Regions from separate parts of the Homo sapiens genome. Here region 2 is linked to region 1. Evidence: fine-mapped expression QTL. Tissue or cell type: atrial appendage. Region 1 holds a variant in brackets; the other region holds the start of a gene. All regions are shown on one strand. Distances are between the middles of the regions.

Evidence for each region. PIP is the estimated chance that this variant, and not a neighbour inherited with it, causes the effect.
Region 2: it holds the start of ABCB4, and the variant in region 1 is fine-mapped to the expression of ABCB4 in atrial appendage (GTEx, PIP 0.97).

The regions. Positions count from the first base shown.
Region 1 is chr7:87,445,071-87,460,398 of GRCh38, reverse strand. ABCB4 (ATP binding cassette subfamily B member 4) reads left to right here. Exons shown (of 28, transcript NM_000443.4): 5 at 5,807-5,864; 6 at 7,264-7,455; 7 at 8,605-8,776; 8 at 10,307-10,431; 9 at 13,194-13,365. Among named protein-coding and RNA genes, the nearest start is that of ABCB4, 23 kb to the left of the region's middle. The variant A/G (reference allele first, on the strand shown) is at 11,736.
Region 2 is chr7:87,467,058-87,484,791 of GRCh38, reverse strand. It overlaps ABCB4 (ATP binding cassette subfamily B member 4), which reads left to right and starts at 9,112. Exons shown (of 28, transcript NM_000443.4): 1 at 9,112-9,158; 2 at 9,321-9,406; 3 at 12,117-12,171. The coding sequence starts at 9,327. RefSeq lists silencers at 8,736-8,985, 9,036-9,235, 9,246-9,385 and an enhancer at 9,856-9,925.

The DNA.
Region 1 (15,328 bases):
CACTACCTGGGTGACAGGATCATTCATATCCCAAACCTCAGCATCACACAGTATCCCCATGTAACAGAACTGCACATATACCCCCTGAATCTAAAATAAAAATTGAAATTATTTTAAAAAGAAAAGAAAAAAGAAATGCAGACTCCCAGGCCACATCTGGACCCACTGAATTAGCAATGGTATTTTAGCAAGACATTTCCTTCCCCACAGTGAATCAGAGATGCATTTATGCACATTAATACTCAAGGGTCTATTAAATGGTCTGACCTTCCAGATGCGGAGCTGGGTTTCTCACCCATCCCTTTAGTAGCAGGACAATGACTGTATAGGAACTTACACCAGCTGCCTTTGATTTCCATCTTATTTCATCTGGAAAAAAAAAATCAAAGAAACTACAAAGACGTTTCTCCAACTCCTGAATTGTCAGCACCATATCTCCACTGCCCCTACTTTGAAATTATCTTTGGGTTTCACATTTCCTGATCTTCAAACCATAAAGCACCATTTATTAGAGCACCAATGGAATATTTTTGTGGAATAAGACCCAACTTTATCTGTTCATGTATGGTCTAGCACCTCTTTTCAAGTGTCGCAGATATTATCTCTTGGTGACTCACATTAGCCTTCCAGCGAAGCACTTATATGTCCATAAAATATCTGTGAAATAATGTAGAGAAACTGATGATTACTTCTAGGGAGAGAAAGTGAGTGGCTTTGAAAATGGGTGGGTGTGATGTCTCCCTGTATTCTCGCTTGTAACTGTTGACGTATACACCTTTACCAAGAAAAAATAAATTTAAAGTAAAAAAAAAATTTTAAATGGCTTCTACACAGGGTTAAAAAAATCAGATTAACAGATGAATGGAAAAATAAGATATGGTAGATACATACAATGGAATATTATTCAGCCTTTTGAAGGGAAATAACTTCTGACATATGCTATGTCATAGATGAACCTTGAGGACATGACGCTAAATGAAATGAGCCACTCAAAAAAAGATAAATACTGTTCGATTCTACTTTTATGAGGTATCTAGAGTAAAATTCATAAGAACGCAAGTGGAATGGTGGTTAATAGGGGTTGTGGGGAGGAGCAGTGGGGAGCTGTTGTTTAATGGGTATAGAATTTCAATTTTGCAAGTTGAAAAAGTTCTGGAGGTTGGCTGGACAACAGTGTGAATATACTTAACAGTACTGAACTGTACACTTAAAAATAGTTAACATGGTAAACTTTATGTAAGGTATTTTATCACAATTAAAATTTTTAAAGTCAGATTAAAGCAATGCAATTCACTTATCACACATCATTTCTCTTTTGGACCAATTTTATTAGTTCTGTTTTTGTTTTTACTAATACCAGAATAATTCCCAACTTTCTTATTTGGAGCAGTTTGCTTTTTTTTTTTTTTTTAACTTGTGCCTAATTATGAAACTGAATGGCTTTAAGCTGGACATGGCAGAGAGGTGCCAAATTCAAGGTCTCTCTGGGGAATGGCACAAGCAAGTCACTTACAGAACTGTGGTTGACACAGAGATAAACTCGCGAGAGTTGCCAACTTTGTTTTGGTAGCCTCCGAATTATAAACACTCCTGTTATGATGCTTGGTACCCTGTAGCCATGTTTCTCATTAGGCTTACTGGATGCTATGGAGTATTTAGATGGAAAGTTCCTCAAATGTTATGAATTTCCAGCATCCACTCTTTGGTCGTTTGTAAAAATAATATTCTCATACCTCTTAGAAGACAATGAAATCTTTAAAGGATACTCACTCTAAATCCAGACTGCTTATTGATGTGTTGAGAGTTGTAGAGTTTAACAAAAATCATGGGGGTTGGGAACAGATAGAGTGAGGTACTTAGCTGAGGTTCCAGCTTATCTCTTAGAGATGTTTACTTAGTCTATTCTTTAGAATTGTTGGATGCTTGGACAACCAGACTTAATAGGAGCCAAATGAGAAAGGCATGTTAGAAGAAAAAAAGGTTCATATTACAAGAGGGTCTGACAATGACTTATTGTGAGCAAAGCTCGTCCTTGTCAACAGAATAAAGCCACTCCATGACAGGGTTGTTCCCTCACAATGAGTCAGTTGTGCAGAAAGTATGCACACAACATTCTGCATCCAAAACATTAAGGACGGAGTTGGAGAAAACAGTTTTTCTGCAGAGTGTCAAGGACTTGATATCTTTTATGCTGTCTCTGTGACTATAATAGTCTAGAAAATTCTGCGGGAAAATAGCTGCACCCTGATTGTCCTTGCATTGCCTCTTGTTTGAGGGGAAAAATGCCATTTTGAGCCCCCAAGATATCTTCATAACTGTCCATAGTGCCTAGGGTGCCTGAACAAACACCAGCTCTTTATTTTATAATGAATAGTTCTATGTGTTAAAAGAAGTCCTAGGCAACATTTAAAAATAACTAAAAGTACATAATTGGATTGTTTGTAACACAAAGAAAGGAGAGATGCTTGAGGTGATGGATACCTCTCTTTCTTCCCCTTTGAAAAAAAAAGAAGTCTTGGGCAGAATCCGGGAAGGCAGACATTGATTTACTTTGAGACTCAAAAGTGAAAATGAAGACTATGTTTCCCTATCTAATCCTTAATGTATACACTGCTTATTCAGACCCTTCACCCATAAGCTGTGTGACCATGAGCAAGTCTCTTAACCTCTATAATCCTTACTGTTCTCATCTTTGAGAGGTAAGCATCAATTTACTGATAGAATTAAGTGAGATGATTTGTGTAAAGTGTCTGGAACATAGTAAATGATCAATAAATATTGGGACAAACTAGCTATAAGAACTTGGAAATGAAACAACCCACTCTGTCTCTTCATCTGTAAAATGGATAGGTTATATAGGTACTCTCTAAAATGAACAGGCAGCTTCAGGAGTTCCCCAGTTCCTTACTACGGGAGGCATTCAGGTGGACTGGGGTGTAAGTTCTCCATCCTGGCATATTAGAATCAACCAGGGTACTTTTTCTTTTTTGAGACAGGGTCTTGCTCTGTTGCCCAGGCTAGAGTGCAGTGAAGTGATCATAGCTCACTCCAGCCTTGAGCTCCTGGGCTCAAGTAATCCTCCTGCTTCAGTCTCCTGTGTAGCTGGGACTACAGGCACCTGCCACCATGCCCGGCCAACTTTTTGTAAAGGTGGATTTCACCACGTTGCCCAGGCTGGTCTCAAACTCCTGGCCTCAAGTGATCCTCCCGCCTCAGCCTCCCAAAGTGCTGTAATTATAGGTGTGAGCCACCGGGCCTGGCGGGGGGCACTTTATAAAAATGTGATGCTCTGGACTCAACCAGAGATTCTGGCTGCATTGGGCTTGAGTGGAGCCTGAACATCTGTAATTCTTAAGCTCCCCATGTAATTCTAATGCACAGACAGCGTTAAGTACCACCAAGCCAAATGACCATGTAGATATCGTTTATGAGACTGAAGCAGAATAGGTAGCATCTGACAAGACCAGGAGTAGGCTCTTTTCAGATCTAGCAGGCCATGACTTTTCAGGCAACACACCAACATATGTTTAGTTCACCTTTGTCCCAGGCAGCAGAAACTCTGAGTTTCCCCGGGGACTCTGGAGCTCCTCAGGTTACTAACCCAGCACTAGATTTCCATTCTTGAGACTCTGAGAAAGGAGCGGGTCCAATCTGGAACGCTCATAGATTCTTTCCTAGGAGGGAGAGTCAATTTGAGTTGGTATCTGTGTTAGTCCATTTTGTGTTGCTAGGAAGGAATACCTGAGACTGGGTAATTTATGAAGAAAATATGTTTATTTGGCTCATGGTTCAGCAGGCTGTAAAAGTATGGTACCCACATCTGTTTGGGGCTTCTGGCAAAGCCTCAGGAAGCTTTTACTCAGTGAGGGAAGGTGAATGGGGAGCAGATGTGTCACATGGAGAGAGAGGGAGCAGGAGGGAGAGGCCAGGCTCTCTTTAACAACCAGCTGTCACATGAACTGAGTGAGAACTCGCTCATTATCTCAGGGAGGGCACCAAGCCATTCATGTGGGATCTGTCCCCTTGACCCAAACACCTCCCATCAGGCCCCACCTCCAACACTGAGGATCACATTTCAACGTGAGATTTGGAGGGAACAAATATCCAAACCATATCAGTATCCTTATTGAGAGAATTTAAAAGTTTGAGGTAGGTGTTGAAAGAGAGGAAAAACTTATTTAAGATTTCACCCAATTTTTCAGTTCAGGGAAATAAAAAAACCACAATGATTTTTACAAATGCCACAGCTTTAGAATAGCTTGCCTGCCTCTAGTTCCAAATACTCTTCCAATTTGCCCTATTTAAAACTTCAGGATGGAAATGAACACACAGAAAGGAACTGATAAGATGAAAAGTAAAATAGGGTATGAATCTTCAAGGTTCTGATAGCTTATAAAGAGCTAGATTAATAATCGGAAATTTCACTGTGAACATCAGTAGAAATTATAATCCTGGGGGAAAGATGATGCTGCAGTTGGGGCCAGATGCCTGGTAATTGATCCTGACAGTAGTTTGAGTTTTAAATAAGTTTCAACCTTATCTTTCTTTGGAAAAAGATAAGGAGGATACACAGCACCACGAAAACACGAAAACACGACCCCTGGGCTATTTACACATGGCAAAGGAACAAAGAGACCAATTTCTCTCCTAGGACCATGGAAAATGAGAAATATGTACCCTGATGTGTTTTCTCAACAATGCTGTGGTGATATTTTATCCTATTATTTTGTGAATGCAGTAGATGTAGGCTGTTTCTTATTTTTTCATTTGTCTTTTCTAAAAAATAAAAATAAGTCATTGTCACATGAATAAATCAGTATAGTATAGTGTTACGAGCATAGGCCAAATTGCCTGGGCTGACTTTCAGCTCTGCCACTTACTAGCTGTATGACATTGAGTAAGTTACTTTATTTATCTGTGCCTCCATTTCCTATTCTATAAAATGGGGTTTGTGAAATAGTCTCACCTCATAAGATAATTAAATGAATTAACACACCTAAAGTATTCAGAGCAGTGCCTGGTATTTAATAAATGCTCAATAAACATTAGCTATTATTAAAACATGGAAATCAGGAAAGATACATTGACATTTTATCAAATTAGCTCAAATTAATAGACAATAGATTTCTTTCCAATTAATACTGCTTCAAAAAATACTAGAATACAGCAGTGCTGGTAAACAAGAGGTGGAATGCAGGATGTTCACTAATTGCCAGTGATCACTGACATGCCTTTGAGCAACTAAGTTATCTTCCCTGTCTAGTTTTTCCTCCTTTGCGATGGATGTAACTTAGCCTTTCCCTTACTTATGTCATATGAGACATGTAAAGAAAAAACACACAGATATAAAAATAAAATTTATTGAAGTTCTATAAAGTGCTTTGAGCCACCAAAAAAAAAAAATGCCTCTTAAATCCTGTGTTTTCTATTTTAAATATTTCTTATTCCCTCCTCTGTCTTCTGTGTGTTTTGTGGCTTCCTTGTCTCTTCAGTGGCTCCTCTGTGCCTCCTTAGAAGGCTGCTTTGCTAAAGGCTGAGACCGCCAGGATGGGGGAAAGACCTGGGAGGGCTTATCTTCCCCTTTCTTGGCCCTTAATGTCCAGTACCTAAACCCTTGGGCTCTTTACTTGAGTAAAGTGAAAAGAATGCACTTAAGTGTGCAAAGAAAAGTGTTTTTTAAAGAGAAACTTAACAATAGCATCTTCTAGCTTTCATACATTTAAATTATTAACAGATTTTTAAAAACCTGGCAATGCCTATTAATAGTTTGATCTTTTAACATGTTTTATTTTATTTTTTAATTTAGTGAACTTTTCCTTGTCGCTGCTAAATCCAGGCAAAATTCTGGAAGAAGAAATGACTAGGTAACTCATATATATGGTCTACTTTTTTAAAGTTTCATTTGAAGATAATTTCCAATTACAGAGTTATAAGAATATACAAATAACGTGTACTCTTTACCCAGATTCACCTATTATTATCATTTTTGCTCCCAAATCCCAATTTAAAGTAAGATGCACACATCATGGCCCTTTACTGCAGTATGACTCCTAAGAATAAGGATATTTTCTTACATAATCACAGTACAGCTATTAGCTTCAGTAAATTTCAGTACTTTTATCTAATATAACATCTATATTCCAATTTTGTCATTTGATCCAATAATGTCATTTATGGCATTTTCTCCTCCTTCTAGTTTCTCAATAGAAATCTCTAAAGCCTGTAAGCATGATGTTTGTATGTCTGCATAGCAGTGTTGCTGATTGTAACGAGTGCTGTCTGTATGCTAAAAGGCCTGAAAGGTGTCTATCTGGAAGCAGTTTATAAAATTAGATAATAAAAATTTGAAAGTATTGATATGTACTTATTATTTTTTAAAATACTAACTTTCTACTAATTTGGTAAAACATTCCAAATTCGTTTGAATTCATGACATTTTATCATATCTTTTTTTAAAATATTTCAAATTCTGACAAATAGGAACAAAGTTTTTTGGTTCTTTTTATAAAGAATGTGGAAAAATCAATATGGAAAGGGCGATTTCACATGTTCAATCTGCTTATTACTATATTTGCAATATGTAAATAGTAGTGAACTTTTCAGTACAATAAGATATACAAGTCTAGAATATAATTATTAAAGAGGAGTTAAATTGTATCCACAAGTTATCAATATCAGTTAAAAACAAATCATTAACTTTTTTGCAGTTAACAACAAAAATTTATCCATTTTCTTTGGCTAACAGTTCAAGTAAATAGATTTGCCATCATGGAGCTCATCACTTTATAATTTAAAAAAAGAAAAATGTAATGTCTGTTTGTTATAATGTCCTATACAGTTTTTGTTTTAAGTTTAGTAAATTGATTAATTTCCAGTTCTGAAAATTTCTCCTGAAAGAGATGAATAAAGGATGGTAGGGTGGGGGTGGTGGCTCATGCTATAATCCCAGCACTTTGGGAGGCGGAGGTGAGCAGATCACTTGAGGTCAGGAGTTCGAGACCAGCCTGGCCAACATGGTGAAACCCCATCTCCACTAAAAATACAAAAATTAGCCAGGTATGGTGGTGCATGCCTGTAATCCCAGCTACTCGGGAGGCTGAGGCAGGAGAATCACTTGAATCCAGGAGGCGGAGGTTGCAGTGAGCTGAGATGGTGCCACTGCACTCCAGCCTGGGTGACAGAGTGAGACTCAGTTTCAGAAAAGAAAAGAAAAGAAAAAAGAAAAGAGAAGGTATTTAATAGAGCCTTTCTCTTTTTTTTCAGATATGCATATTACTACTCAGGATTGGGTGCTGGAGTTCTTGTTGCTGCCTATATACAAGTTTCATTTTGGACTTTGGCAGCTGGTCGACAGATCAGGAAAATTAGGCAGAAGTTTTTTCATGCTATTCTACGACAGGAAATAGGATGGTTTGACATCAACGACACCACTGAACTCAATACGCGGCTAACAGAGTAGGTACATTGTTAATGTCACACTTTCATATAGAAATTAATTACTGTGTGAAAATATGTCAAGGAAAGATTTTAAATGAAAAATGTTACTAGATTGAGCATCTGATCTATATTAGAAATCGATCATCTGGCAGCCATGTCTAGCAGCATCTATAGCCTATGCCATTGCATGTTGGCTTTCCCCCAAGGTGCATAGTAGGTTTATTTGAGGACTGAATTCACATCTTATACCTGTTTATTTCTCATGGAACTTTCTACTGCAGGACGTGACAGGTGCTAGACTGTCAGTAAAGATGGTTGAATCAATGAATAGATGATTGAATTAATTTACAAAGAGACTTGCTTTAGTAATTGTCAACTCTTCACTTATTCAACAAATATTTGAGGGTGTTTCATGTGCGAAGTACCATTCTGTGTGTTCGTAATATATCAGTGAACAAAGCACAGATCTCTGTCCTTTTGGTGCTTACATTCCAGTAGAGGGAGATAGATGATAAACTTTCCTGACTGGGAGTCCTGGCAAAGGCATCCTGAGCAAATAAGTCAAAAAAAAAAAAAAAAAAAAGGGAAAAGCAAGACATTTAGGGCCTTGTAAACCTCCACAAAGACTTCAAGACTTCAGCTTTCACCCAGTGAAATGGCAGCCGCTGGAAGTTTCTGAGCTGAGGAGTAGCATGGTCAGACTTGCATTTTCAAAGCATCCCACTGGCTGCTGTGTTGAGAATAGACTTGGTTGGGAATAGGGACAAGAGTAGAAGCAAAGATCTCTTCCCTATTACTTCCCTATAAGAAGAAATGCAGTAATACTTCCCTACTACTGTTGCTTATTATTGTTGCAATGTTCTTCTTAATTCTTGCTTTTAAACAGATACATTTTTATGCTCAAAATGTTAATGCTTCTCTCATAGGATTGACTCATTTAATAGTATCAACTTAATGATACTAACTTATTAGAAGCATTGATCAATCCTGAATTTCTTCCTTTGTGCGGTGTTTAGGTGGGGAAGATGTTATTCAAGAGGCTAAGACTCTGAAAGAGGCTTGCAGTCAGTGAACAAATTTTACTTGTCTATGTGTTTGTTGGATGTCTACTTCATCTTTCTAACTGAAACCTCCTGCCTGTAACCACTTAGGTGTGATCTTTTTTAGTGACATCTCCAAAATCAGTGAAGGAATTGGTGACAAGGTTGGAATGTTCTTTCAAGCAGTAGCCACGTTTTTTGCAGGATTCATAGTGGGATTCATCAGAGGATGGAAGCTCACCCTTGTGATAATGGCCATCAGCCCTATTCTAGGACTCTCTGCAGCCGTTTGGGCAAAGGTATGTGAAAGCTGGGCCTTTTTATGTGTGTTAACCCCTGCACACAGTAATCTTTAATATGCAGAAGTCTCGTACTTGTACCTGTTCAGGTCTACATTAAATGTCAGTTGAAACTACATCCAGTAACATGGTGTTAATATGATGCTTTCATAAGGAAATTAATTTTTAACATAATTCAAAATGTCACAGGCTGGGTGTGGTGACTCATTCCTGTATCCCAGCACTTTGGGAGGCCAAGGTACATAAATCACTTGAGGTCAGGAGTTCCAGACCAGCCTGGACAACATGGCAAAACTCTGTCTCTACTAAAAATATGAAAAACTAGCCTTGCGTGGTGGTGCATGACTGTAATCCCAGCTACTTGGGAGGCTGAGACAGGAGAATCGCTGAACTCAGGAGGTGGAGGTCGCAGTGAGCCCAGATCATGCCACTTCACTCCAGCTTGGGTGACAGAGTAAGACTTCATCTCAAAAAAAAAAAAAATTCACAGTTCTTACTTCGATTACCCTTAGTTAAGGAAGTGCAACTTTAAAATATAACATTTCCCTCAAATTATTGCATGAACATAAAAATTTTAAATAGAGTTTGTATTTGTTCTATTTGTTTTAATCATTACCTGTGATGGTTAAGTGGCACTCTGCCAGTTTTGCCTGGCAATAAAATACACAAAATGTATTCTACTTTAGCCAACACTTCAGAGTTGAGAAATTTTACTGGCAATTTTTGCTCATCCTGACGTTGATGATTTACACAGTGAACTACCTGTATCTCTTTTGTTTTGATTCTTCCTTTGCTTTTCTCCTGAAACATCTTGTTTGGCTATCTTATTATTCAGCAGAATGCCCATGAGGAGGTCTGGAAGTATTGTTTTTATAGTAATTAAAAATTGTGACACAAGTCCAAAGTGGGTGGATCACGAGGTCAGGAGATTGAGACCATCCTGGCTAACACAGTGAAACCCTGTCTCTACTAAAAATACAAATAATTAGCCAGGCGTGGTGGTGTGCACTTGTAGTCCCAGCTACTCGGGAGGCTGAGGCAGAAGAATCACTTGAAACTGGGAGGCAGAGGTTACAGTGAGCCGAGATCGTGCCACTGCACTCCAGTCTGGGCAACAGAGTGAGACCCCGTCTCAAAAAAAAAAAAAAAAAAAATTGTGACACAATAAAGTTAAGAATGGTAAATTCTTTCAAAGCAGTAAAGTTTTATTTTATTTTACCTTACAACTAACAAAGAAAAACAGTAGATGTGGAACTTGACAGTGTTCCCAAGAGTGCTATTTAGAGAATTATGTGTGGATTTTCTTTTTTCCTGAGTACTCTTGGGGAGCCTATCACCAGGGTGGGTCAGATATAGCCTTTGAGGGATGTGGACGCAGCCATTGGATCCAGAACACTGGCATTTGCTACATGACTTTAATATTTGTTAAAGGAGAGGGTTTGGGAAGAAAAAGTAGGTTAAAGGGTTGACCAGAGTGCCTTTAAACTTTTCTCCCTATACAAAAGTGATCACTGTTTCTTTTCTGTCCAGATACTCTCGGCATTTAGTGACAAAGAACTAGCTGCTTATGCAAAAGCAGGCGCCGTGGCAGAAGAGGCTCTGGGGGCCATCAGGACTGTGATAGCTTTCGGGGGCCAGAACAAAGAGCTGGAAAGGTCAGGAAGGTTCTTTAGCCACTGGTTTAAGGAATGTGTTTTTACATTTTGTTGCTTCTTCTTTGTGGTATGTGTTTTTTACCTTCCCTTTCCTAATATTAACCCTTCTCGCATAAATTATAAGCACCCTTTACTGATGGCTATAGTTGAATGTCAGACTCTAAAGCAAGATTCTTAATCATTTATGTTCCATGGACTCTTTTGGCTATGTGATAATACAAATGGACTCCCTTGTTTTTAAATGCATAAACCAAAATATGCTAGCCCTTTGGGAAGCCAAGGCAGGAGGGTAGCTGGAATCCAGGAGCTCAAGACCAGCCTGGGCAATGTAGTAAGACCCTGGCTCTACAATTTTTTTTTTTTTTAATAAGCTGAGTGTGGTGGTGTGCACCTGTGGTCCCAGCTACTCAGGAGGCTGAGGCAGGAGAATCCCTTGAGCCCAGAATGTCAAGGGTGCAGTGAGCTGAACTCCAGCCTGGATGATAGAGTGAGCCTCTATCACAAAAAAAGAGTAAAAATTTTTTAAAAACCAAAAAATAAATAAATAAAAGCCCCAAAAAACAAAATAAGTAGGGTTACAAAGGAAAATAATTATATTAAAAATACTTATCAAAATATTTTTTATTTTATTTTACTCCTTAATGACTATGAACTGGAATATAGAAGAGAAAAACCTGAGAAAACATCGACTTCCTAGTTATAGCCCAGAATTCTTTGTAGGGCCTTGTGGGTCCTCCATAACAATGAGGCAGGGCTTCCCACCCAGGCCTCTGGCATTCAACTTTAATGATCCAGGATAAGCCTGGAAAATTGACCAGTATCTGGAGGCATGTTGCAAACTCTTCTCTGAAAAAATTATCAAGGCATGATTGACATATGAAAAGCTGTGTATACATCTTTAGTGTGTATATCTCAATGAGTTTGGGGATAAGAATACACCTATGAAAAAGGCTATTCTGCTCTACTTAAATGAAAATAATTACTTAGGGTTTTATTTAAATAACAATATCCCCTACTGTAGTTGAAGTATGATTCCATATAAAGTATTTTCTTTGGCTATTCTATGGGACTCTTGATACTCACAACTCTTGGATATAAAAATTCTCTGGAAATTCTCTAGCATTAAAAACAAAGTTTCCCTTATTCCCCCCATTTAATTTTCTACTTTTCTATTCCTTAATCCCTCTTCAAAGCCAACATGTTTCTGATCCTCTAACCTCTTCCTTTTTTCTCTCTCACTGCTGCTTCCTGTACATAATAGTCCACACAGACCACACTAACCCTCAGTTGGACCTCAGGATGTC[A/G]GTGTAATCTGTGCCGCTCCATTAGCCCCGGTAAGCGAGCCACCTAAGCAAAGGTAATTACAGTGTGTCCGCTGCTGTCACTGGAGCTGTGTGTCACACTGGGCAGATGCAAGTCTTCCTGCCACGCCTTGAGGCTCAGCCACACAGGAGAAATCACAGCGCTAGCTGTGGCCTGCTGGCTACCCCCAGAGATGCAGCTGTGCTCTATGAATGCAGCCCCCAACCAGAGGAAAGCACCCTGAAGACCTGGGTGCTTTACGCAATAAAAAAGACAAACCTTCTGATGGCAGAATATGTTTTTTAAAAGACTAATGAATTCTCATGTTTTATTTGGTTCAACACTAAAACTGGTGTTGCTGTGTTTTGTTTTTTGTTTTTTTTTGTCACAAAGAAAAATATCCTAGTTTGTGTGATATTTTCCCCTCGAAGTGTCATTGCATACCCATTGGATTTTTCTTTAAATTTCAGGGAGCCCAAATTAAATTTTACATACCCTCTGGGTCTAGTATGAAAAAGTAGATTTGATTTAACTTGATGAAAAAAAATTGTAATTTAACAGAATCATTCTAGATATTTTAAACTTTATATCAAATGCCAGCAGCCAGTAATAATGCATTTGAATTATGATTCAAAGATATGATAGTAATAGAATGAGCAAAACTCAGGAAGAGATAAAAGTTGAACACAATGATACTAATATAATAGTAAGAGAAATGATCAGGCTTGCTAACTATGAACCAGCTACTGTACTACTTTCTACAATTATCTACCAACCTCACAATTATCTTGCAAATTAGGCATTATTAAATCCATTTTTCATATATGAAACTAAAGTCTGGAAAAATTGAATAAGAACTCATATTCCATAAGTAGTGACTACCTTATAACCTGTATCTAGCTTGACAGATGAAGGTCAGCCTGATTTTTAAAAAAGTCAAAGAGAGAAGCCTATGTTTATGTACAACAACATGTAAAATTTTCATCCCTCACCCAGTGGACAATAGAGGGACGATTTTCTTTTCTCCAGAGAAGAGACATTGACCAGAGTTAAGAATCTAACTGTTTATGAGTTCCAGTGACATTTACAATCAATTCTGGTTTGGCTTGGTTTCTCTCATTCCCTCTTAACCCTGACTTGTGATATTGCCGTGAAGGTGATGGAGAAGCTCTTCCATATCCCAGGGTGAGCCCTCAATTCTGGAATAACCACAGGAATGTTGGTTGGCTTGGAATGGATGAAGGGAAATGGAACCGGGCCAGTAAAGAGAAGGCTTGGATCTGTTCTAGGCCTGGCTGATCCTGAATTAGTTCAATTCCCAAAGATCTGGGTCTCACCATGGGTTCATTACCTTGACTGACTTTGTTACTTAAACCTCCAACTATATAGGAGCCGAGTGTGACTCGGACTATGGATTGTTATTCTTAATTATAATGTTTTCCCTCTCATTTTTCTGGTAGGTATCAGAAACATTTAGAAAATGCCAAAGAGATTGGAATTAAAAAAGCTATTTCAGCAAACATTTCCATGGGTATTGCCTTCCTGTTAATATATGCATCATATGCACTGGCCTTCTGGTATGGATCCACTCTAGTCATATCAAAAGAATATACTATTGGAAATGCAATGACAGTAAGTAGTTCTCCTAACATTTATGAAGAATATGAAAATCTTATTTCTCCATCTACCTTCTCTTTTCTTTGATATCGCTCCTTTTTGAAAGATGAACATGATTATAGGTTTTTGTTTTTGGTGAATCTTTCCACTGTCCAGTGGGCAGAGCTGACTTTCTAGTATATACAAGTCATAATTATGAGTGTGGATAAGAAAATAGCATGTGGTTAGACCATTTGTGAAACATATACAATGTATAAAAGGAAATAAAAATGGGATGAATTTAGGAATAAACAAATATGGATGGGAGCCATCCTCCCTCTGCCGTTGAGTTTTATTGTATAAGAAAGTAAGCATCATTATTACAGAATAGGTCATTGCACAAGAAAATGTTACATTTATATCACTTAAAACAATCAGCTCTCTGAAATACAAGAAGAGATGTTATGTTAGTTTGTTTTTATTTATCAAAATGAAGATAGCTTCATTTTATGATTGTTAAAATAATATATACTAATTTTACAAAGGATTAGGATACAGAATTTTTAAAATTAAAATTACTTACAATCTAATAATTTATATTCTCTTGATGATAATTTTTGGCATATATCTTCCAGGTCATTTTCTATATATATACACATTGTTTTCTTTCAAAACTGGGATCATACTATGTATATCTTTTTGTAACCACATTTATGAACTACCAATATTTTGTGACCATCTTTTCATGTCAGAGACTCAGAACAATATGTAACTATTTAAATAGAAATCTTTTAACATCTGTACTTCCCTATCTTGCTAAAATGAGGATACTGAGCATAATTTGGCCCTTTGATGATGACTTGGGGTCATTATGAAAGTGAATATTTTCAGAATGCTTTATGCAGTGGTATCTTCAGACTTCATTGAGAGGTTGTGGGTGTTCGACTTGGTGAGCCCTCATTAATGCTGAGTCTAATTTTTCTCACTTCCATCTTCTCTCTGGCAGTCGGTTTGGAAGCTTGCTACCCTTTCTTCACTTCCTCATTTACTATTGATGTTTTATGAAGAAGGGAGGTTGAATCCTGACAACCGTTCACCTTTGGTGATGAGTTTGTCCTCTATGGCCTTAATTTCCTCATTTGTAGTATGTGGATAATGACACCTATCCGGTAGGGCTGAGATTGCTATCCCCAGAGGGAGCCCAAGCAAAGCCCTCTGCATAGAGGGCAGGGACTCTATTGCATTAACCTTATGGCAACTATTTTGGTCAACATTATTTTTCTTTCTTACTGGTCCTTATCTGTATTGCAGATGGGGGATAGATATTTAACTGATATTTGAGTTATGGGTAACATGAAGTGTTGCTGTGTTTTGAGAAAAGCCAAATTATATGTAGAAGTTTTACCATGCCCTGAGAGAAAAAAATAATTTATCTTCACTTATGTTTTTCTCAGTTAAGTTATGCTAATAATCTGGATTCCTGAAGCTGTATTCTGAGCTTCTTTATATCAATTCATTTTCCTAGTGAAAAAATACTGTGAAGGGAAATGTGTTAAGTGTTGTATGCTACAGTACAGAATAACTGTGTAAAGGAATTGCTAACCAGTGCACACTGGAGTGATTTTATGTTTTATGATGTGCAAACTGTTACTTTTTATGTTAAAAATCTTTAAAAATATATGTGACATGGTGCTTTTTAGGAGCATTACATAGGGCCAAAATCTGCCATGTTTTATATTGAACCGTCTATGTAATTCCATGCATAGTTAGAGAAAATCATATAGGATGGAATAATAATACTGACTGAAAATGTTTCTTTCTGGTGGCATTTGTGAGTGAGTCAATGAAATAGGTTTGAAAAATCTTTTTAACTCTGTATGTATTCAGGAGAACAATAGGTAGTTTGAGAAAATAGACCCACTCAGGCAATAAAATGCTATATTAGCCTTGCAAATGTTGCTCTTCCACAAAAAAAAAAGGAAAGGATAAACCTAAACTT
Region 2 (17,734 bases), 23 kb before region 1:
TCTTTCTTGAGAAGGCTTTTCTAGGTGTTTGAAAGTACTTGGGTATTTTGATCTAAGCTGTATCTGCATTAGGGAGCACCCTAAGCCCAGTAACATTGTGGTTTCTTACAGACTTATAGAGGTACTGCCTTGATGGTCTTGGATAAGATCCAGAAAATTTCTTACCAGGCAGAGACTCTTGTTGTCTTCTTTTACTTTCTCCCAAACAAACAAATTCTCTCTCTCTCTCTCTCCCTCTCTCTTTTTCTGTGCTGGACATCCTGGAGCTTGGGGTGGGATGACACAAGTTCCTCTGTGGCTACACCACTGGGGCTGCACTAGGACAGACCTGAAATCAGCACAGTACTGCATCTTGCTCAAGGCCTGATGTAACCACTACCTGGCTACCAATGTGTGCTCAAGACCTTGGGGCTCTATAATCAGCTGGTAGTAAATCTAGCCACGTTTGTATCCTTCCCTTCAGGGTGGTGAGTTCCCCCAGGCCCTGGGTAGGTTGAGAGGTGTAGTCTGAGAGCCAGAGACTGGAGTCAGAATCCTTAGAAATCTACTTGGTGTGCAGTTTAGTTGGCACTCAAACCACTAGACACATTCTTCCCTCCCCTTTCCACAGGCAGGAGAGCCTCGCCCCCTGGCCTTCACCACCACAGGCCCAGGGGAGTACTTCCAGGCTACTGCCACGGTTCACTTAAGGCACAAAGGTTTTTCAATCAGCTTGTGGTGAATGCTGCCCGGTCTGGAACTCATTCTTTAGGGCAGTGGGCACCCTCTGCTCATGGCGGGTCCAGAAATGCCATAAAAGAGCCAAGGCCTGGATTCCAAGAGCCTGCTTGGTGCTTTGACCCTGTGGCCGAATTGGTACCTAAGGTGCAATACAAAGTCTCCTTTACTTTTCCACCTGCTTTTCTCAAGCAAAGAGTCTCTCACCACCGCCACCATAGCGGGTAATGTGCTGGATCTTACCTAAAGCCAGCACATCTCAGAGTCCTACCCAAGGTCCATGTCCATGGCGTACTATCTGGGCATCACTGATGGTTATTCGGGGCCCAAAGGTCAGCAAGTAATGAGTCCTGCTAGGACTGGTTCCTTCCCTTCAAAGCAGTAGATTCCCTTCTTGTCCAGCGTATGTCTAGAAATGTCCAGGAGCTAGGGCCTGGGATGTGAGTCTCATGACTCTGACCAGTCCCCTATCCTACTGTGGCTAAGCTGGTAACCAAGATGCAAAATAAAGTCCTCTTTACTCTTCCCTTTCCTCTCCTCAAGCAGAAGGAAGGAATCTCTTTTGGAGCCATGAGCTATGCTGCCTGGGGTTGGGGGAAGGGTGGTGCAAGCCATTTCCTTAGCTGCCCCAGCTGGTGTCTCCGTAGGTCATGTGCCTCCCCAAGTCCACTGGCTCTGAGCTCAGCTTAGCACTAGAAATCACCTAGGAGTTGCAGTCCTTGTGGCCTACACTGACTTTCAAGTTTATTTAGAGCCCCAAGGCATTTTAGCCCACAGTGATGAAGCTTGATGGAACTCAAGTTCCGACAACTGGGATGGGTGATTCCCCTCTGGCTAGGCCTGATCTAAATGCTCCCTCTGTGGGCAGGTGTCAACTGAGTTCAGCCCAGCTTTGCTTTATACTGTGACAGGGAAGCACTGAGTTCAATGCACAGTCTCACAATCTCTGTGCTCTCCCTCTCCCAAACACATAGCTTTTCTCTCCGCACAATGTGGCCACTGCTGGGAGGATGAAGGGTGGCATCAGCAATTCAAGACTGTCTTTCCTACCCTCTTCAATGCCTCTTTCAGCGATATGAAGTTAAAACTAGGAACTATGAGTGCTCATCTGATTTTTGGCTTTTATAAAGTTGCTTTTTGTGTATAGATAGTTGTTTAAATTTAGTGTTCTTGTAGAGAGGGACAATCAGTAGATCCTTCTATTCAGCCATCTTGCCCTGCCCTTCTTCTCTACCTGTGGTAGTCTTGACTATATCTATTTGTGTAGATTTTTTAGTGGTCCTCTGAGTATTGCATTATATATAAATAACTTATCATACTTTACTATTTTCATCATTTTACTTGTTTGAGTGAAGTGTAGAAATCTTATCTCCCTTATATCCCTTTACTCTCTCTCATTCACTTGTAATTGTCTTATGTATTTCCCTTACTTATATTTAGAACCACATCAGACAGTGATATAATTTTTGCTTCACCCATAAAAAATAATTTAGAAAACTCAATAGGAAGAGGAAAGTTTCTTGTATTTACCAATATTTTTCTTGACCATGTTCTTTATTCTAGATATTCTAAGTTTCTCCTGTTTATAATTTTCTATTTAGAGAACTTCCTTTAGTCATTCTTTTATTTTGAAAAGCGTTAGCTTTAGAATAACTTTAAGAGTTAGTAAATGTCAATAACCTTAAGCCTAGTGACCCTACTCTTGCTTATCCATTTCATCGTTGGCCTTGGCACCTTGCAGCCCTCCCTGTCCACCCAGTGGTTTTCATTACTCTCACAGAACACAAGAATTTCATTAGGCAATGTGACCTTGGAACTCTCAATGTGCCCATTAATCCACGTTGGCAGAAATGATATAACATAGTGATTAATAGCAAATTCTTCTAACTACTTCTTGTCATGGTACCTTTGCAAGTCCACCCTAGTTTATGAAGGTATAAGGAAGAGTTTAGTGGAAAACAGAGAGAGAGAGAGCTGAATCAGTATTACCCTTGTCTTCAACATCTTTATGAGTGCCTTTGGGTGTGCTGGGCCGAATTAGATGAATTTTATAATGAACAAAAGAAGAACGAAACCAAAAGGAAATAATATTTTTAAGAGAAAGGTCAAAGGCAAAGCAAAAAATTTCTGAGTCAAGCAATGAGAAGGGTTTTTTAAAAAAGAAAAAAAAACTTTGGGAGAAGTATAAGATGTAACATGGGTTGAAGGAAGTAAAGGCAGGAAAAATTAAGATCTATAAACTCTGAGAAGGTAGTTTGAGCAGAAGTAAAAAACATTAGTGACCAAAAGTTTGGAAATGATTCAAGAGTAGTTAAGTGCAGCCAAGTGCAAACAGAATAGTCAAATTTTCACTATCTTCAGACATGAAAATTTGGAGAATTGTTAGATAGCCACAAATGCAATATAGTGGGGGAAAAGACCACAGAGCATATTTGTCAAGATATAAGTCAACAGGACAGAGAATAGAGTCCATCATAGCACCCTCTTTAGGAAAAATTGTTGCTAATTAATTTATATTTGAATATAATTTGAAAATACTTTGGTAGATGGAATTTGTTATTCTCTGTTGACTCTTACTTATAGGAAATTCTTTTTGTACAAACCCTTTTATGCTATAGTTCAAAAATATTGATCTATTCAATACACATTTACTGAGCCCACTGGTGCTGTGGGCACTAGAAATACAACAGGTAAGGCTTCTGTCTAACAGTGGTCTTCAATAGGAATACAGAATGAGAAGCTGAAGTCACGTGGCCAGAGCTGGAAGCCTAATTCCATTGTTTACTAGCTGTGTAAAATTCACTTTGATATCCCCACCTCTAAACTGAGAATAATAGTTCCTCACTTGTTTACCTTGAACATGCTCCTTGTTTTGAGAATCAAATGAGATGATATATATGTGTGATAGGCTCTGTAAATTCATAAAATACTATATAATCTGAGTAACTTTTGCATTAGCCTTGTTTAAATCCTTCTTTATATGCCTAAAACTTTTTATCCTAAAACCTTAGCCCAGGTCCTTGCACATAGTAAGTGTGGGCAGCAATTATTGGATATTCCAGCGAATGAAATGAAAACATATTAATATTTTTACTCTCACGGCTCTTATGTGCTACTAAGATGACAAGAGACAATAAGCATAATAAATTCTTTAATGATATAGTATACTAGAAGGTGATAAATGCTGTGGAAAAGAAAATCAAAGTAGGATAAGAGGAACTGAGAGTCCTGAGGGTACAAGATCCAACTTCTAATTGAGAAGAGATTTTTAGGAGGTGAGAGTGTCCTCCATGTCAGTATTTTGGGGAGGATAATTTTGGACAGGGGGAACAACTAGTACAAACACCCTGAGGTGGAGTGCTGCCTCTCTTGTCTGAGTAATATCCAAGAGGCCAGTGTGGCTGGAGTGGAGTTAGGCAAAGACAAAATAAATAAAAATGAGATCAGAGAGGTCACGGAGAGGGCACAGCATTGTAGGCCATGACTGAGTGAATTGGGGGCTACCACAGAAATGTGAAGAGAAGAGTGATGTGATGTGACTCACATTTCAAAAGAATCATCCAGGCCATGCTTTTGACAATGGACAAAGGCGGAAGAGGAGGAAAGGACAGAGGCAGAGAGACAATTAACAAGCTATTATAGAAAATCAGGTGGAGATGATAGTGGCTTGCATGATGGTGGTAGAGCTGGAGGTGCAGGGCAAAGGTCAGATTCTGAATATATTTTGAAAGTAAAGGCAACAAGATTTCCTGACAGATTGATTATGGTGTGTCAAAGAAAGAGAGGAATGCAGGATGATTCCAGTGTTTTTGTTGACAACTATAAGTCTGGAGCTGCCAACTGGATGCAGAAGTTCACTGGAGGGCCCAGCCTGGGGAAAGGATCAGGAGCAGGTTAGGCATGTTAAGCTTGAGATGTCTGTTAAACATCCAGATAGGAATGTCAAAGATGCACTTGTGTTTAAGAGTCAGGAATGCAAGAGGGAATTTTAGGCTAGAAACAAAAAGTTAGAAATTATTCGATACAGATGGTATTTAAAGCTGTGTGACTGACTGACATGACAGAAGTGGCGAGAATAGACTGAGAAGTCCAAGGAATGAGCCTTGGACCACTCCAGTGTTAGGTAAGTAGTTGAAAAAAAGAGAGAGAGAGAAGGCATCAAAGGAGACTGAGGAAGAGTGATCAGGAAAGCATAGGAAAATCCGAGAAACATATGGTGTCCTGGAATCTATATGAAAAAGATATATTCAGAAAGACAGAGTGATAAATCTGTCAAATTATTGAATTTGTCAGGTAAAATAAGAACAGAGAATTGATCTTTGGACTTAGCAAAGCAGAGATTATCAGTGACTTTTATAAAAATAGTTTCGGTAGTGTGGAAAGATCAAACTTCTGTTTAGAGTGGGTTTCAGAGAGAACAACAGGAATTGAAGAAAGTAATAAACTTTGCCAACCAGTTTAGCTCCAAAGGAAAAGAGGGAAATATGATGGTAGCTGGCAGGGGAAGTGTGGTCAAGAGAGGTTTTTTGTTTGTTTTTCAAGATGGAAGAAATAACAGTATGTATGTAAGCTCACAGGAGGGATCCAGCAGGCATGGGGAAATTGATGATATAGGACAGAAAGGGAAGAATGGCTCCTTGTGAAAGTGAAAGGGGATGGGATCTACAGGATGAACATGCAAACAAAGACTGGCTGCAAAGAGAGGCATGAATAGTTCATTTACAGAAACAGCAAAGGCAGAGTGTTGGTACAGATGCTGGTAAGTGGAAAAATATCATGGTAGGAGGTTATGGAGTTCCATTCTAAACACTTCAACTTCATCAGTGAAATAAGCACGGTAATTTAGCAGAATGTGAAGATGTAAAAGAACAGAATTTGAGAAAACAGACGATATGAAATAATTATTAGAAAAGCAGGTGAGTGAATGAACTAAGAAAACATCTTATGACTATTGGTCAGTAAACGTTGGGATACATAGTGAATTTTACAAAATCTTTGCCCTCATAAGTCTTGCATCCCACAGAGTGGGCAATAAATAATAAACATAATAAGTACATTATGTATACAGTATAGGGCCATGTAAGTTCATGGCGAGGCAAGCCCGATGACTTTGTATTTTTCTTCAGACATGTTCTGCTGCATGGTGTAGGTTCACAGTAGCTCAGTAACTTGAATTATCCAGGATTGTGGTTTTACTAAGCAAGCCTGATAAAGAGAGAGGGCTAGAGGGTTGTGGGTGTTTTCAGGCTGAGTTAAGAGAGAAGACATGAAGGAGGTGAGGAACAGTAAAAAGGTGGTAAGATCAGTGGACTGAAGGATGCATTAAAGAATGACTGTGTTTAACTCTCTGATACATCTGACGTATGTTCTCCATCTCCACTTCCCTGCTAGTCATAGCGGATAAGGATACTCCCTGGATTCGAATTCTAGTTCCATCAGTTATAAGATATTGATTCTGTTTTACTTTGTCTGTCTCATTCCAAAACACATGTCTCTAATTACCATAGTTTGATAATGAGTTTTGATATTTATTTAGTAAGGCAAACCCATAAATAACTGATAATTTTTCAAGATAAAAGTGAAATAAATTTTCAGGAAAAAAAAGCTGAGAAAATTTGTCACAAACTAAAGAAAACAAGAAAGAGACAGTAGATGAAAGAGTGCTCATTAGGTGAAAGGAAAATGATCCAAGAGGGTAGCTTTGAGATGTAGGAAGAAACAAAAAGCAAGAAAATGATAAATGTTTTGATAAAGCTAAATAAGTATCAACTCATAAAGAAATAATATTCCCAGAAGAGTCATGAATATACAGAGAAAATTAAAGTACATGACAATGGCAATGTAAAAGTTAGGGGTGAATAAAAAAGAGACTTAAGAGTTCTAAAATCATTGCATTGTCCTGGAAGAGGAAAAAGTACAATGATTAGTCAAAGATACATGTCATAATCCCTAGAAAGGAGATCATTATTAAATAGAAAATAAAAGAATACATCTTATAGAAAGGAAATCTAAATGATAATATTAAACAGATCTAAAATAAGGCAAAAGTGAGGATAAAAAAGAAAGATGGAACCAATGGGGCAAATAGAAAAAGTAAGATAGCGTGGTAGGGCATTAATTCCAGCCTTACATCAATGCATAAGTATCTCAATATTCTACTGTAAAGGGAAAGTAAAGATTTCTTACAGCCTGAGTGTAATGGAGAAATCTAGTTTATCATAGTGCTTTAAATATTGTAAGTCTTCAACTTCTAGTTGATGAATAAATGATGGAATTCTCAGTGATACTGCACTGTTATCAAATAAATATAAAAGGAGCTCCTGGAATTGGATGTAATACAGGTAAAGAAGTAAACACAGCCATATAGGCATGGCTTCTTGCAGGGACAACTTTGTGAATCGGCTCAGACAGACAGACAGGCAAATACACCTCATTGCCTCATACATGTTATTTGCTTTAGTTTTTGTTCTGAACCTTCCTACTCCTTCAAGTATCTGCATTTACTTTATCAAATTCTCTTTTATTAGAGACTGAAGAAACTGTCATCTCCTTATGTGCTAATGAGTTTAATAATGTCCTCCAGTCACCACAAGCCTTCTTTCAAACTACACAATTCCAACTGCTTCCGTCTCAGAGTATCTTGAAATAATGATCTGACCGCCTGTTAGACCAGTGAAGGGAAGGAATTTGGGTTGATTTAAGAAGAGAATCCTCATGGTCATGGTAGACTGATATGGAGAGAAAACATTTTGAGGAAAAATACTCAACTAAATTCATTTCTACTCCAGCATGCAGTTTCAAGTCAAGTTCCACCTTAGCTCCAGGTGGCAGGCAGAGCAGGATGCAGAGGCACAGCACAAGTAAGGGGTGAGTGCCGAAGCTGCTGGCTCCTGTTCCAGTCTTTCTTCCTTGGCCTCGCCTGAACTTTTACTATAATAATAGTCACCATTTATTAGGTGTCTCCTACGTGCAGGACACTTTACACACAGTATCCCTAATCCTAATAACACCCTTATTTTATAGATCCAATGACTGAGTCAAGAATTACATAACCTGGCCAGACAGCTGGTACATGGGAAAGGTGAGATTCACACCAGGGTCCACCCAGCATCTCTACTTATACCATGCTCTGCTTTAAGGTTCTCTGAGAACTCAGACAAGCCTTGGGCTAACAATTGTGTTAACAGGACATAGCAGGTGCAAGGACCCACTGGTCATCCTGCTACCTGATCAGAAGGAAGGAAAGTTGTATTTGTTGCTCACCTACTATGTTTTAGGCATAGTACTAGGTGCTTTTACCTAGTACTTAATTCCCTTATCCTCAACTCATTTATTCCTCGCAATAACCTGATAAGGGAGATGTTTTTATCCTCATTTTACATATAAGGAAACAGGCCTAGAGAAATGAGCACAGTGTCCAAAGTCACATAGTTAATAAGATGTGAAGCTCTGAGTTTGAAAGTCTCCGGTTTCAAAGCCATGAAACTTATGGCTCCCCGTTTTAGACACTTCCTTTTGGGAAGAGTGTGGAGGAATTAATCAGAAAGAAGAAAGTCATACTCAAATAGGTGGTAGGAGCAGAGACAATTCAATACAGACAGAAGTCTTAGATGAGAGCAGTGAGCCAGGGCACTGGACTGGGACTCAGGAGGCTTCCCCTAGACTCTGGTTCCACCGATGCAGCCTCAGGCAGGACTTCACCTCTCTGGGCATCCGTTTCTTCATATGTTAAACATACGGGGTTTTAATTAGATGATCGCTGAAGACCCCTCTAGCCCTAAAACTCTGTGTCTCTTAAGTGCTAAGAGGGCACCAACAGCGTTCCTCCTCCCCAAGGAGCATAATGTGATGGTTCCTGCCGGCCCTGGCTGACTCTCGCCGTCCTTGGAGATAATTGGGTTCAGTGCCACCTGGACCAGAACTGGGGATGCGGAAGCAAGAGGCGAGTCTATTGCTCTCTCTCGGTCCTGGGCCGCCCTGTGATTGTTGGGCGTCCGGAAACTGTCTCCCCTATGGGTTTAAAAACAAAACTGAGCGCCCATGGGGTGTGACAGTCATCTGCAGGGGCTTGGGTGGCCCATCAGGCGAGGCTTTCTCGGCACCCGAGGCTCCAGCCTGATCTCGGTCTTATCCTGCGACCGGGCTGGTTCTGGCGGGTCGCCAGGGTGGGCGGCGGCCCCAGCCGGGCGCCCCGGCGGCAAGAGCGGCAGGCTGCGCCCCTGGCCCGCGCCTAGCCTGGGGAGAGAGCTGGGCGGGCGGCGGGAGCTGCTCTCGCGGGCCGCGGCCCTCGCCCTGGCTGCAACGGTAGGCGTTTCCCGGGCCGGACGCGCGTGGGGGGCGGGGGCGGGGGCGGGGGCGAGGCCGCGGCGAGCAAAGTCCAGGCCCCTCTGCTGCAGCGCCCGCGCGTCCAGAGGCCCTGCCAGACACGCGCGAGGTTCGAGGTGAGAGAGGTCCGGGCGCGTCTGGCCTCGAAGGGAGACCCGGGACGTGGGGCGCGGGGCGGGAGTGGCCGGACCTCCACCCAGTGCCCCCGGGCCCCGCGACTCGTGCGCCGGGCCGCCGGAGAGGGTGTACTTGGTTCTGAGGCTGTGGTTTCTCCTCAGGCTGAGATGGATCTTGAGGCGGCAAAGAACGGAACAGCCTGGCGCCCCACGAGCGCGGAGGGCGACTTTGAACTGGGCATCAGCAGGTACATCCCCAGCAGCCACTGGCTTTTCCGTTACACGCCAATCAGCAGGACTAAGTTCACCCTTGGAAAGAAGTTGTAAAAATCGGTTGATGCCTTTGAAGACCTTTGTTTTGGAGGCTTCTTTGAAGGGTCTTGCATCCGGTTCTGACCTTGGAGCAAACGTGTTGTGTGGCCTCAAAGAATGTCACTGAGGCTCCTTTTGGAACAGATTCAGGAAGAAAAGGCTGTCTTGAAAAGTGCTCCCTTCCCTTTGTGCAGGGGGGATTCAATGAATATCTGCATTGTATAACATTCATTGTATTACGTAACTCTTGAAACTTTTACAAATGACTTTCATATACATCATCTGATTGTTCAGACTTAAAGGGTGTCAGACATCTGCTGTTGATGGCTGTGCTTTTTGAACAAGGGCAGTGAAGCAAAAACTCCCTCCCCTCCTGCCCATCCCCTGTTATGTCTCTTCCTCCTTGTCTTACCCCTCCCCCTCCTCTCATCGCCAGGCTTATTTGTATTTCTCCTTTCTGGGAGGATAGGTGGGGAGGGGGAACTTCTGTACATCCGAATCAGTTTTGTTCAAGTGGTAGGGGGAAGCAGCGCTTCCTTTGCCTTCATGTCTTTCTCGGTTCCCCTGGCCCTTGTTAAACTCACTTCACAGGCTTTATGAGCGGGGCAGAAGTTCCCAGTCAATGGCGTGTGTCTTTGTTTCCTCTTTCACTGTGGGAATAGTGAATCATTTTCGCCTTTAGCCTGAAATAGTTTATGAGGCTATTACGGTCTCTGAGTTCATACCAGGCTACCCAGAAAAAATTGACCTGTGTCAAGTGATCACCCAGAGGGACAAATTTATCAGTCTCTGTAGTTTGTCCTCAAGCTGCTAGGGGCTTGATTAGCTAACTGAAAACATGCCTACCTGATGCTTAAACTGAAGCATTATTTTAGCCTGTTAATGTGGTTGTGCAGTAACCTTGCTGTATTTCTTCTAAGCACCATTGTATTTTTTCATAGAAAATTTAGTTTTGCCATGTAGAATTGAAAAAGTGATAGATGGTGTTACTTCCAATGGAAGTACTTACACACGCAATAGAAAAATATGGTTTTCATCAGCTGGCTGTTTAGGCAGGGATTGACTGTGAGTCTATTAATAGATGGCATTTTCATGAAGAAGTCTATTTATGTATTGCACTGGCTTAACATTTGATGCGTGTGCAAAGGAGCTATTCCTACAAAAGGTGTAGTAACACTTCAGAACCCAGGAAAGTCCTCAGAGGGGAAGCCCACAGCTTCTGCTGGAAAGAAGAAAGCAGCTCAAAAGAGAAATACAGAAAGTTAACAATAAGTTAAGACCACATGATTATGAAATCAAATGTAGTGAAACTAATTTTTATAAAAGCAGACCAAAGATAATATATTTAAAGGAAGTTAAGCCTGCTTCAATCAAATTAGTTATATTCTTGTTCTAATTATGTTGCTATTGCCCATGGCACATTCTTTTGAACATATTTAGTGGCAGATGTTTGTCCAGTGATTTTAGTCAATACTTTACATAATTTGGAATCATCTTATGAGTAAAACTTTATCATTTACCTGGATAAATGCATCATATTTATGTAAAAATCATCATATATATATAAATCATCATACACACACACACACACACACTCCCTCATAGAGTTTATATTATAGTACGGAGGACAGACATAAATAATGTACATACTAAATAAGTAAACCACAGCCAATGTTAGAAGGTAATTAACGCCATGGAAAAAAGCATTAATCCAGGTTAAGGGGATCAGGAGTACAAAAGGGGAGTACTTTGTAATTTTAAGTAGGGTGGTTAGGGTAGATCTTATTTTAAAGGTAATATTTGAGCAAAGACTTGAAAGAAATGAGAGGAGACAGCTGTGTGGGTATCTAAGGGGAGAGCATTCCCGGAAAAGGTAACTGGCAATGCAAAGACCCTGAGTCAGGTACATGTTTGGTGAGTTCATGGAACAGCAGAGAGTCCAGGCTGGTTGGAGCAGAGTAAGCAGGTTTGGGAGTAGGGATGTGGTCAGAGAGGAAATAAGCAAACAGATCGTGTAGGACCTCAGAGGTTAATGCAAGGATTTTGGCTTTTATTGTAAGAAAAAGGAAAGCCATTGTAGGTTTTTGAGCAAAGAAGTAGTGTATGGCTTGGCATTTTGAAATAATTACTCTGACTGCTAGTTGAAGATAGACTGAAGCGGCATAGGTGGAAGTGGAGAGACTAGGCAGGAGGCTGCCCTACTGGTGACAGCAATGAAACTGGTGATAAGTGGTTAAATTCTAGATGTACTTTGAATGTATCACCAACAAGATTGCCTGACACCACTCTCCACAATCCTTCAGAAGAATAGACATTCCTAATTTTAAATCATGATTTTTTTTAATTTTAGAAAACAAATAACTTAATTGACTTAGCGACACTGTTAGCATACTTATCTTTCCTGTGTATGTGAGCTCTGTAAGGCAGGCGACCATTTCTTATGTATCCATGTATCTTTGTAGTACCTTCGACAGTTACTTTTGTGCTTGCTATGTTTGTTGAACTGAATAATTTTGACATTTTGTGAACATCACTCTTATATTTGAAAATATAATAGTTGAATATTGTAACTAAACATATTTATGTTCAATTGATTGTAAAACATTTTGTAACAGTTTTAAATTGAAGCAATTCTATTTTTTACAGCAAACAAAAAAGGAAAAAAACGAAGACAGTGAAAATGATTGGAGTATTAACATTGGTAAGCTGTGAAATGTTAAATGTGAATAATCCTACCTTTTATTCAAATTTGAGGTATTGAATCAATTACCTTTAAAGCAAATACTTTAAGATTGTCTAGCTAGGCGAGCTGACTCATACTTGTAATCCCAGCACTTTGGGAGACTGAGGTGGGAGGGTTGCTTGAGCACAAGAGTTTGAGACCAGCCTGGACAACATAGTGAGATCTCATCTCTACAAAATAATAAAAATAAAAATCTTAAAAAATAGCATATGTCATGGCATGAACCTGTAGTCCCAGCTACTTGGGAGGCTGAGGCAGGAGGGTCTTAGGAGTCTGAGGCTGCAGTGAGTTATGATCACACCACTGCACTCCAGCCTGGGTGGCAGAGCAAGACCCTGTCTCAAAAACAACGACAACAAAAAACTGTCTGCAGACAGCAATAAATTGTCCTTGCTGCACCTGTGCTGTATAAGTTTGGCTTATTATAGTCAATGACCCACATTCTTAAGATGGATGATTTTTTAAAAAGTAGAGACAGGCTGGCGATGACACCGGACAGAGCTAACTGGTGTGCAAGGAAAGTGAAAATGGGAATTGTGTTAGTAGCACAATGCAAACTCAACAATTTCAAGAAAATGCATTTCTGCATTTGCTTCACAGACCCCCACCCCAAATTTAGCTTAAAATAAGCTTGCATTTCAAGAAAGTAATTGTTAAGTACATAAATTTTAATTTAAGGAATCTACATTCACATTTGGTTTCCAAAAAATTGGCTAAATAGGGGGTAACTATTAGGAATTCTGATTATGCTTAAAACAGTTTTCGGTGCTTTTCTGTTGGTACAAGACAAGACAATATTTTTGGAAGAAGTCTCCTCATCTGGTTTTCATTTGAAATATGTCTTACAGAGGCAGCTCAAGAAAGCATTTGCCCATTTTTGGTAAATATGACGTGTTTCAAACTGTGACAGCCATTATTTGGTAGCAAAGAAGTTAGAATTAAGTGTCATGTCAGCTGAAATCCAACTTAGTAATTAAATGGATAAAAAGACACCAAAACATCCACACTCTCAAACACTGCTGCATACTTCTCATGTAACCAAAAGCCCCTATTCATTGTCTTCTCTCCTCTTTTTTTATTTGTTTAAAAAGCCTCAGTAAGGGCAATTTAAAAAAAAATTAGCACTTTGGAGAATAAATTGTTTATCAAATGAAAGCTGGTTTTATTTATTTTTTTAGAAGTTTTTTTTTCTTTATTTTTTTAAATTTGTTTAAATTATACTTTAAGTTCTAGGGTACATGTGCATAACGTGCAGGTTTGTTACATATGTATACATGTGCCATGTTGGTGTGCTGCACCCATTAACTTGTCATTTACATTAGGTATATCTCCTAATGCTATCCCTCCCCCATCCCCCCACCCCACAATAGGCCCCGGTGTGTGATGTTCCCCTTCCTGTGTCCAAGTGTTCTCATTGTTCAGTTCCCACCTGTGAGTGAGAACATGAGGTGTTTGGTTTTTTGTCCTTGCGATAGTTTGCTGAGGATGGTTTCCAGCTTCATCCATGTCCCTACAAAGGACATGAACTCATCATTTTTTATGGCTGCATAGTATTCCATGGTGTATATGTGCCACATTTTCTTAATCCAGTCTATCATTGTTGGACATTTGGGTTGGTTCCAAGTCTTTGCTATTGTGAATAGTGCTGCAATAAACATACTTGTGCATGTGTCTGTATAGCAGCATGATTTATATTCCTTTGGGTATATACCTAGTAATGGGATGGCTGGGTCAAATGATATTTCTAGTTCTAGATCCTTGAGGAATCACCACACTGTCTTCCACAATGGTTGAACTAGTTTACAGTCCCACCAATAGTGTAAAAGTGTTCCTATTTCTCCACATCCTCTCCAGCACCTGTTGTTTCCTGACTTTTTAATGATTGCCATTCTAACTGGTGTGAGATGGTATCTCATTGTGGTTTTGATTTGCATTTCTCTGATGGCCAGTGATCATGAGCATTTTTTCATGTGTCTATTGGCTGCATAAATGTCTTCTTTTGAGGAGTGTCTGTTCATATCCTTCACCCACTTGTTGGTGGGGTTGTTTTTTTCTTGTAAATTTGTTTGAGTTCTTTGTAGATTCTGGATACTAGCCCTTTGTCAGATGAGTAGATTGCAAAAATTTTCTCCCATTCTGTAGGTTGCCAGTTCACTCTAATGATAGTTTCTTTTGCTGTGCAGAAGCTCTTTAGTTTAATTAGATCCCATTTTTGTCAATTTTGGCTTTTGTTGCCTTTGCTTTTGGTGTTTTAGACATGAACTCCTTGACCATGCCTATGTCCTGAATGGTATTGCCTAGGTTTTCTTCTAGGGTTTTTATGGTTTTAGGTCTAACATGTAAGTCTTTAATCCATCTTGAATTAATGTTTGTATAAGGTGTAAGGAAGGGATCCAGTTTCAGCTTTCTACATATGGCTAGCCAGTTTTCCCAGCACCATTTGTTAAATAGGGAATCCTTTTCCCATTTCTTGTTTTTGTCAGGTTTGTCAAAGATCAGATAGTTGTAGATGTATGGTATTATTTCTGAGGGCTCTGTTCTGTTCCATTGGTCTATATCTCTGTTTTGGTACCAGTACCATGCTGTTTTGGTTACTGTAGCCTTGTAGTATAGTTTGAAGTCAGGTAGCATGATGCCTCCAGCTTTGTTCTTTTAGCTTAGGATTGACTTGCCAATGCAGGCTCTTTTTTGGTTCCATATTAACTTTAAAGTAGTTTTTTCCAATTCTATGAAGAAAGTCATTGGTAGCTTGATGGGGATGGCATTGAATCTATAAATTACCTTGGGCAGTATGGCCATTTTCACGATATTGATTCTTCCTATCCATGAGCATGGAATGTTCTTCCATTTGTTTGTGTCCTCTTTTATTTCGTTGAGCAGTGGTTTGTAGTTCTCCTTGAAGAGGTCCTTCACATCCCTTGTAAGTTGGATTCCTAGGTATTTTATTCTCTTTGAAGCAATTGTGAATGGGAGTTCACTCATGATTTGGCTCTCTGTCTGTTATTGATGTATAAGAATGCTTGTGATTTTTGCACATTGATTTTGTATCCTGAGACTTTGCTGAAGTTGCTTATCAGCTTAAGGAGGCTTTGGGCTGAGACAATGGGGTTTTCTAGATATACAGTCATGTCATCTGCAAACAGGGACAGTTTTACTTCCTCTTTTCCTAATTGAATACCCTTTCTTTCTTTCTTCTGCCTGATTGCCCTGGCCAGAACTTCCAACACTATGTTGAATAGGAGTGGTGAGAGAGGGCATCCTGTCTTGTGCCAATTTTCAAAGGGAATGCTTCCAGTTTTTCCCATTCAGTATGATATTGGCTATGGGTTTGTCATAAATAGCTCTTATTATGTTTAGATACCTCCCATCAATACCTAATTTATTGAGAGTTTTTAGCATGAATGGCTGTTGAATTTTGTCAAAGGCCTTTTCTGCATCTATTGAGATAATAATGTGGTTTTTTTCTTTGGTTCTGTTTATATGCTGTATTACGTTTATTGATTTGTGTATGTTGAACCAGCCTTGCATCCCAGGGGTGAAGCCCACTTGATCATGGTGGATAAGCTTTTTGATGTGCTGCTGGATTCGGTTTGCCAGTATTTTATTTTATTTTATTTTATTTTATTTTATTTTATTTATTTATTTTTTGAGACGGAGTTGCGCTGTTTCGCCCAGGCCGGACTGTAGTGGCGCTATCTGGGCTCACTGCAAGCTGCGCCTCCCGGGTTCACGCCATTCTCCTGCCTCAGCCTCTCGAGTAGCTGAGACTACAGGTCCCCACCACCACGCCTGGCTAGTTTTTGTATTTTTAGTAGAGACAGGGTTTCACCATGTTAGCCAGGATGGTCTTGATCTCTTGACCTTGTGATCCGCCCGCCTCAGCCTCCCAAAGTGCTGCGATTATAGGCGTGAGCCACCGCGCCCACGGTTTGCCAGTATTTTATTGAGGATTTTTGCATTGATGTTCGTCAGGGATATTGGTCTAAAATTCTCTTTTTTTGTTGTGACTCTGCCAGGCTTTGGTATCAGGATGATGCTGGCCTCATAAAATGAGTTAGGGAGGATTCCCTCTTTTTCTATTGATTGGAATAGTTTCAGAAGGAATGGTACCAGTTCCTCCTTGTACCTCTGGTAGAATTCGGCTGTGATTCTGTCTGGTCCTGGACTTTTTTTGGTTGGTAAGCTATTAATTTCAGAGCCCGTTATTGGTCTATTCAGAGATTCAACTTCTTCCTGGTTTAGTCTTGGGAGGGTGTATGTGTTGAGGAATTTATCCATTTCTTCTAGATTTTCTAGTTTATTTATGTAGGGGTGTTTACAGTATTCTCTGATGGTAGTTTGTATTTCTGTGATATCAGTGGTGATATCCCCTTTATCATTTTTTATTGCGTCTATTTGATTCTTCTCTCTTTTCTTCTTTATTGGTCTTGCTAGCAGTCAATCAATTTTGTTGATCTTTTCAAAAAACCAGCTCCTGGATTCATTGACTTTTTGAAGGGTTTTTTATGTCTCTATCTCCTTCAGTTCTGCTCTGATCTTAGTTATTTCTTGCCTTCTGCTAGCTTTTGAATGTGTTTGCTCATGCTTCTCTAGTTCTTTTAATTGTGATGTTAGGGTGTCAATTTTACACCTTTCCTGCTTTCTCTTGTGGGCATTTAGTGCTATTAATTTCCCTCTACCCACTGCTTTAAATGTGTCCCAGAGATTCTGGTATGTTGTGTCTTTGTTCTCATTGGTTTCAAAGAACATCTTTATTTCTGCCTTCATTTCGTTATGTGCCCAGTAGTCGTTCAGGAGCAGGTTGTTCAGTTTCCATGTAGTTGAGCGGTTTTGAGTGAGTTTCTTAATCCTGAGTTCTAGTTTGATTGCACTGTGGTCTGAGACACAGTTTGTTATAATTTCTGTTCTTTTACATTTGCTGAGGAGTGCTTTACTTCCAACTACGTGGTCAATTTTGGAGTAAGTGCAGTGTGGTGCTGAGAAGAATGTATATTCTGTTGATTTGGGGTGGAGAGTTCTGTAGATGTCTATTAGGTCCACTTGGTGCAGAGCTGAGTTCAATTCCTGGATATCCTTGTTAACTTCTGTCTCGTTGATCTGTCTAATGCTGATAGTGGGGTCTTAAAGTCTCCCATTATTATTGTGTGGGAGTCTCTTTGTAGGTATCTAAGGACTTGCTTTATGAATCTTGGTGCTCCTGTATTGGGTGAATATATATATTTAGGATAGTTAGTTCTTCTTGTTGAATTGATCCGTTTACCATTATGTAATGGCCTTCTTTGTCTCTTTTGATCTTTGTTGGTTTAAATTCTGTTTTATCAGAGACTAGGATTGCAATCCCTGCCTTTTTTTGTTTTCCATTTGCTTGGTAGATCTTCCTCCATCCCTTTCTTTTGAGCCTATGTGTGTCTCTGCACGTGAGATGGGTTTCCTGAATACAGCACACTGATGGGTCTTGACTCTTTATCCAGTTTGCCAGTCTGTGTCTTTTAATTGGAGCATTTAGCCCATTTAAATTTAA